Homo sapiens: one gene and its partner. The protein of the gene in region 2 purifies or fractionates together with the protein of the main gene of each other region. This does not show direct contact. Each region holds a gene or a part of one and is shown on either strand. Other genes may lie near its edges.

Region 1 (3,500 bases), on a different chromosome or scaffold from region 2:
CAGGGAGGGGACACAGTACTTTTTCAGCCGCTCATCCAGCTGCTGCTTGTCATTCTCCAGGTCCATGATGCTCTCCTGGGTCAGCTTCAGGTCGCCCTCCAGCTTCCGCTTCGCTCGCTCCAGGTCCATGCGCACCTTCTTCTCTTGCTCCAGGGATCCTTCCAGCTGGTAGAGAGAAGGAGCCAGGCCCAGTGAGGCAAAGCATCCTGACTTGGTGATTTTGTTGTTCAGTTACCTCAGGACTTGGTAAATCTTTGTGTTCAGGACTTGGGAAACCTTCCCCAGAGTGGGCCAAATGTTATTAGGGGACTGTGAGATTGCCTAGATATAGGGGATGCTGAATCAATATTTTATAGATAAAGGAATAAATGACTGTGGGATGAAACCCCAAAGCCGTATTCTTTCTTTCTTTCCCTTTCTTTCTTTCTTTCTTTCTCTCCTTTCTTTCTCTCCTTCCTTCCTTCCTTCCTCCTTTTTTTTTTTTTTTTTTTTATGGAGTCTCACTCTGTCGCCAGGCTGGAGTGCAGTGGCGCGATCTCGGCTCACTGCAACCTCCGCCTCCCTGGTTCAAGGGATTATTCTGCCTCAGCCTCCTGAGTAGCTGGGACTACAGGCGCACGCCACCACATCCAGCTAATTTTTGTATTTTTAGTAGAGATGGGGTTTCACCATATTGGCCAGGATGGTCTCGATCTCTTGACCTCGTGATCCACCCGCCTTGGCCTCCCAAAGTGCTGGGATTACAGGTGTGAGCCACCGCGGCTGGCCGCCGTATTCATTCTTTCAGCATCCTATAAACACCTACTGGGCATCAGGCTCTGTGCTAAGCACTGCAGTCCCCAAATTGAATAGATCTAAGTTCCTATCTAAAGGAAGCTTGTAGTCTTATGGCTGAGATAGAAGCTTAAATAATTAAAATACAGAGTGATAAGTGAGTCAACAGACATATGTGCATCAGAGGGAACAATGATCAGATTCTGCCTTAAATATTGGAATTTCAAAAATTCTACTTGGGGAGCCTCACAAAATTTCCAAAGAAATTTATCATGTTCTTATGAGATGACCCTCTAAATCTTGTGTCAAAGGCAGAGATATATGGGATTGCACTTAAATTAAATAAGAAAACTCATCTCTATTATTGATCATACCAGTGAGATTAGATACATAATTCAGAATTGATCACCACCTCTGACTTTTCATTCCCCAGCTCCTTTCTAGAAAGATATCAGAAAAGTTAACATCCTCTAACCCTACCCCCCTCTAAACATAAACACAAACACACACACACACACACACACACACACACACACACACACACACACACACAGAGCTCTGGGCACAGATAGACATGGCATATCTAGGCCCCACAACTCTCAATCTACTCACATCATCCACTTGCTGCTCCAGCTTGACTTTGGCCTTAGTCAGGGTGTTGACCTTGTCCTCCTCGGCCTGAAGGTCATCCAGAGCCTGTTGGTGGGCCTCTTGCAGAGCTTTCTTCTCCTTGGTCAGCTTGGCAATGATCTCATCCAGCCCAGCCATCTCCTCTGTCAGGTTTTTCACCTGCCGACCAAGAATCCCATCTCCTTTAGGGTCAAAGGTCACCAGCTTGGTGCCATCTGTGGGGAGCTCCATGTCAAGGTCCATGCTGCTCTCTGGATGCCGAGTGGCTAGCCTGGGTCAAGGTCAGTATGGTCTGAGAGTCCTGATGAGACCCGGGCTGGAGCCAAAGGGAGCTGCCCTTACCTTGTTCTCTGTTGCGTGTTTCTCCTTCTCCACTTTGGCCAGTGTCAGCTCCAGATCATCGATGTCCCTTTTGAGCTCTGAGCACTCATCTTCCAGCTTGCGCTTCTTGGCAGTGAGCTCAGCATTCATCTCCTCCTCATCCTCCAGCCTCTCGTTCATCTCCTTCACCTTGGCCTCCAGCTGAATCTTGTTTTTGATCAGCTGATCACAGCGCTCCTCAGCATCTGCCAGGTTGTCTTGTTCCTGAAGGTGAGGAACAGAGGGGAGGCTGTTCAGGGGGTAAGGTCCTCATTCTTGCAGGTAGAGGGAAGGAGAGGCACATCACTCAAATAGGAGGGTAACTCTAGGATATCCCCACTTGGCAAGAGCTTCAGAAGTATGGGGAGGGGAAGAGTTTCAGGATAGTATAACTTGGGAACACTGGGGAGGGGAGCAGAGAGGAAAGGAACCAGAAATCTTCATCTGGACCTCTTCCTCTGGTCTCCTCCATCGAAGGGTGGGAATTGCATTTGCTGATGCCAAGCACTTATGTATGATGGCTTAATGAAATGGACAGCTTTATTCCCTGTCTAGAGGAAATTGAGGCTCAAAGATGATGCATGGTCTGCCCAAGGTCACAAAATAATTAAGCTGTGTATCTAGGTTGAACCCAAGTAGAAAGCCTGTGCTTTTAAAAGTCAGCTCTTTTCCCTCTGCCCTTTCCTCCTCCTGAGGGACCTCTTTGGAGGTCTTTAGAAGTGTTGATCCCAGAGTCCTCTGACTGAAGGAACAAGACAGTGAGCCCCTGTGCAGGGAGGTGCAGGGTTGTGGGAAGTGAAGGCAGAGCAGGGTGGAAGAGCCAACAGTAGCCCAGGAGCCTCACCGCCTGCACTTGGAGCTGCAGGTCATTCTTCTCCTGCAGCAGGGACACCATCTTCTCCTCCAGCTCCTTGCGGCGAGCCTCGGACTTCTCTAGCGCCTCTTTGAGGCGTGTGAACTCCTCCTTCATGGAGGCCATCTCCTTCTCTCTTTCTGCACTCTTCAGCAGCGGCTTGATCTTGAAGTAGAGCTTCATCCAGGGCCAATTCTTGACCCCCATGAAGGCCCGAATGTTCCACTGGATTACCAGCAGGGAGTCTCTGCAGGGGCCCATTGAAAGGAGTGCTGAGCCTCCTGCCTCCTTCCTACCTGAGGTCCTGAAACCTTGGGAATATCCCATTTCCTTCATCCCTCCCACCCTTCCTGAGGCCTCTGACCCTGTGACTGCAGTGTGTTCATATGAGCCCCTCCTGCAGGTCTCTGTGTTTGAAGATCTGCTGAGCTTTTTTTCCTGACACTGCCCCTGAACCAGCCTGGGCCTCAGAGAAGCGGGAAACCTCCTCTTGAGATCTCTCACCTACGTTCCAGCAGCTTTTTGTACTCCATTCTGGCGAGCACACCTCGGGACTGGGCCTGGATACGCGTGATGATGCGGCTCAGCCTCTCGTCCCTCATTTCCTCCAGCAGCCCCAGCAGCCCGGCCTTGAAGAACACCTGCAGGCAAGGTGTGTGTTGGCCATGACTAGGGAGGGGTACGAGGGAAAGAGATGGTGGGGATTACCTTAGGAAGGGTAACAGCCTAGAAAAGGATTGCAGGGAGGAGGTCAATGGCAGCTGGAGCTGGGATGAGGGGAGTGGTGCTAGATGTTCCACTGGGAGGGGTAGCATACAGGTAAGAGATTTTGCTAAGATGATTACAACAGGAAAAGCATCAGAGGAGTCAATGGAAAAGAGAT
Region 2 (4,106 bases):
CTTTCTTTCTTTCTTTCTTTTTTTTTTTTTTTTTTGTGACAGGGGCTCTCTCTGTCTTCCAGGCTGGAGTGTAGCCGCGCAATCTTGACTTACCACAACCTCCACCTCCCAGTCCTCGAACTCCTGTGCTTAAGCGATGAGGCTGGCTTCGTCCTCCCAAAATGTTGGGATTACAAGCGTGAGCCAGAGCCCTGCCTTAAAATTAAAAAAAAAAAAAGTTTATATCTATTTATTTATTTATTTATTTATTTTGAGATGGAGTCTCGCTCTGTCACCCAGGCGGGAGTGCAGTGGCGCGATCTTGGCTCACTGCAACCTCTGCCTCCCGGGTTCAAGGGATTCTCCTGCCTCCACCTCCCGAATAGCTGGGACTACACCTGTGCCCCACCACGCCCGGCTAATTTGAGACAGTGTCTCTCTCTGTCGCCCAGGCTGGAGCGCAGTGGCGTGACCTTGGCTCACTGCAGCCTTGACTCCTAGGGCTTAAGCGATCCTCCCACCTCAGCCTCCTGGGTAGCTGGGACTACAGGGGCAGCTCACCTCCCAGTCCGCGAACTCCTGTGCTTAAGCGATGAGGCTGGCTTCCTCCGCCCAAAATGTTGGGATTACAAGCGTGAGCCACAGCCCTGCCTTAAAATAAAAAATAAAAAAAAGTTTATATTTATTTATTTATTTACTTATTTTGAGATGGAGTCTCTCTCTGTCACCCAGGCGGGAGTGCAGTGGCGCAATCTTGGCTCACTGCAACCTCTGCCTCCCGGGTTCAAGCGATTCTCCTGCCTCCGCCTCCCGAATAGCTGGGACTACACGTGCGCCGCACCACGCCCGGCTAATTTGAGACAGTGTTTCTCTCTGTCACCCAGGCTGGAGCGCAGTGGCGTGACCTTGGCTCACTGCAGCCTTGACCCCTAGGGCTTAAGCGATCCTCCCACCTCAGCCTCCTGGGTAGCTGGGACTACAGGGGTGCTCCACTGCTGCCCCGCCATTTTTTTTTTTTTTTGTAGAGACAGGTTTTCGCCATGTTGTCCCGGCTGGTTTCGAACTCCTGGGGGGGCCCAAACAGTTCACTCGCCTCGGCCTCCCAGTGTGCTGGGATTACAGGCCTGAGACGCCGTACCGGCTTGGTCTTCATCTTGACTCTAGTTAGGGCCAAGAGACCTCTGAAGAACTGAGGCTGCCCTGTTAGAGAAAGCCTTCCCCTCCCTGAGACCCGCCAGGCTGAAATGAGAGGCAAGCCAGTTTTATAGTTCCGCCTAGGGCTTTCCAGGGTTAAAAACATGGATTGTCCCTTCAGTCCCCGCTGAGGGTTCTTACCTTTACTCCGGATCAGTTCTAAGACTCACGCTAGGCCACGAACCTGACTGAAGCTATTGCACCCGTCAGGCCAACTGCCTCACTTTCAAAGCGGAAGTGAGGCTGAGCCACACCCCGCTCGGGGTCTCCGAGGGCTGACAGCAGCGGGTGACACGCTGGGACCCCACTGTTCTGGAGTCAGTGGTCCCTAGGTCCTTATTCAGGGTTCTCACCTTGATACTAAGCGGAGCAGAGTAACACCTCTACTGAGCGAAGTCCGCCAACCTCCAAAATCCTCCCCTCCCATAGTCCCTAGAGGGGAAGTCTAGGCATGTTATCGGACCATGTCCTGGGGCTTCAAAGACCTGAAACAGGGTTAGGGCTTTTGGTGGGCCCTTCTTTTGGAGAGAGGTTCCCTGGTTAGCACCGGTGGGCCTCATATTTCTTTCTTTCTTTCTTTCTTTTTTTTTTTTTTTTTTTTTTTTTTGTGACAGGGGCTCTCTCTGTCTTCCAGGCTGGAGTGTAGCCGCGCAATCTTGACTTACCACAACCTCCACCTCCCAGTCCTCGAACTCCTGTGCTTAAGCGATGAGGCTGGCTTCGTCCTCCCAAAATGTTGGGATTACAAGCGTGAGCCAGAGCCCTGCCTTAAAATTAAAAAAAAAAAGTTTATATTTATTTATTTATTTATTTTGAGATGGAGTCTCGCTCTGTCACCCAGGCGGGAGTGCAGTGGCGCTATCTTGGCTCACTGCAACCTCTGCCTCCCGGGTTCAAGCGATTCTCCTGCCTCCGCCTCCCGAATAGCTGGGACTACACGTGCGCCGCACCACGCCCGGCTAATTTGAGACAGTGTTTCTCTCTGTCACCCAGGCTGGAGCGCAGTGGCGTGACCTTGGCTCACTGCAGCCTTGACCCCTAGGGCTTAAGCGATCCTCCCACCTCAGCCTCCTGGGTAGCTGGGACTACAGGGGTGCTCCACTGCTGCCCCGCCATTTTTTTTTTTTTTGTAGAGACAGGTTTTCGCCATGTTGTCCCGGCTGGTTTCGAACTCCTGGGGGGGCCCAAACAGTTCACTCGCCTCGGCCTCCCAGTGTGCTGGGATTACAGGCCTGAGATGCCGCACCGGCTTGGTCTTCATCTTGACTCTAGTTAGGGCCAAGAGACCTCTGAAGAACTGAGGCTGCCCTGTTAGACAAAGCCTTCCCCTCCCTGAGATCCGCCAGGCTGAAATGAGAGGCAAGCCAGTTTTATAGCTCTGCCTAGGGCTTTCCAGGGTTAAAAATATGGATTGGGCTCCGAGAAGTCCCCTTATTTGTGGGTTTAGTTTTCCCTTTTTTACTCACTCAAGAACCTCACTTCGCTGCTGGCCAGTCCTGGGACTCCACATTCCATGCCATGAATCCTGCTCAGATCAAGGTCCTCCGAGATCTAGGCTGAAGTTTTGATGAGCCACATTAGGCCAGGGATGTTTGGGTCCTGTGAGGGCAGACAGCGGAGTCGGGTTTCTATGGGACATCACTGTTCTGGCTCCTCCTGTTCTTCATTCAAGGTCCTCCCTGATATCTGCCAGACCCTGGATCCTCCCTCTAGTTAACTGAGGTCACCTTAGGTCAAAACTCTCACTTCACTGAGAACTCTGAAGGGTAAAAGAGAGGATGCTCAGTCTGACTGCACTGCCTGGGGCATTCTAGGCTGAGAAGAGGTTTGGGTAGATTGCCCCGTTATCTTTTGGTGTGGTTGTCTTTCCAGTATTTATTTATGGGTGTCCTCCTTATTTTCTCTTGCCTCTCTGAATAAAGGCTTCCTGGGAAATGCCACATCCCTGCAAACTCTTGGGCAGCGTTCCTACTGCAAACCTTGCAAGTCTGTGCCCCAGGGCTAATGTGAGGTAAAGAAATTATAACACAAAGCAGGGAGTCCAAGGTAGCTGGTGGGTTGTCAGAGAAAAATGATGCTGATTTACTCTTTTCAATAGCCAGCACTAGCCTCTTATGTGACTTCTGTTTTAATTGATTTACTTCTTAAGGGGAAGGAGCTGTTCAAGATGATTGTGTGGTCCCTGATTTTGAGGTTATCTGACTGTGCATATGTAGATGATCATATTGTCACTGAATAATATCTCTTTCTCCTCTTTATTTGTAGCTTTCATTTATTTTGATATTCTTTATTGCTTTGGCTATGTATTCCAATCCAATTCTTTGGGCACAGAATCCTTCTTTTTAACCCCTGAGATATATTTGGAAGTATTGAGAAGAAAAGTGAATTAAAGAACACAAAGTCTGCTCCAGGCAGAGAGGAACAGAATGAAGAGTGTGGGCTCTAGAAGAATTCACAACAGGAGTCTAGTCCCAGCCCTGTCACTTACTCACCCTGTGAACTTGAGCATATTACCAAACTCCAAACAAAGAAATTATAATCAAACAAAATGCTGCTTAGCAAGGAAAATTATATAATTTATAAAGTGTTTGTGGAAGAGCCTTCTCCAATTGGATACAACTCAAGTCTCAAAATTTTTGTCAATGACCAATATTTTTTTCTAACTCCTAGGCACCCTTCTATGTTAACCACTCCTGTTTTGATTTTTATTATTTATTTATTTTTTTTTTTTGAGATGGAGTCTCACTCTGTCACCCAGGCTGGAGTGCAGAGGCACTATCTCGGCTCATTGCAACCTGTGCCTCAGGGCTCAAGTGATTCTCGTGCCTCAGCCTCCCTAGTAGCTGGGATTACAGATGTCCACCACCACGCCCAACTAATTTTTGTATTTTTGGTAGAGACGGGGTTTCACCACGTTGGCCAGACTAATCTTG

The links. The genes of interacting proteins can lie anywhere in the genome.
Region 1: the proteins of MAGEB3 (region 2) and MYH7 purify together in Homo sapiens (co-immunoprecipitation; one large-scale study listed by IntAct). This does not show direct contact.

The regions. Positions count from the first base shown.
Region 1 is NC_000014.9:23,422,161-23,425,660, forward strand, and holds part of MYH7 (myosin-7), read right to left. Parts: intron 3,259-3,500; coding exon 3,122-3,258; intron 2,865-3,121; coding exon 2,609-2,864; intron 1,990-2,608; coding exon 1,747-1,989; intron 1,564-1,746; coding exon 1,387-1,563; intron 166-1,386; coding exon 20-165; intron 1-19. UniProt on the Homo sapiens protein: Myosins are actin-based motor molecules with ATPase activity essential for muscle contraction. Forms regular bipolar thick filaments that, together with actin thin filaments, constitute the fundamental contractile unit of skeletal and cardiac muscle.
Region 2 is NC_000023.11:30,229,351-30,233,456, reverse strand, and holds the start of MAGEB3 (melanoma-associated antigen B3), read right to left. Parts: upstream 2,801-4,106; 5' UTR 2,640-2,800; intron 1,941-2,639; 5' UTR 1,839-1,940; intron 1,391-1,838; exon of another isoform or gene 1,315-1,390; intron 631-1,314; 5' UTR 541-630; intron 196-540; 5' UTR 94-195; intron 1-93.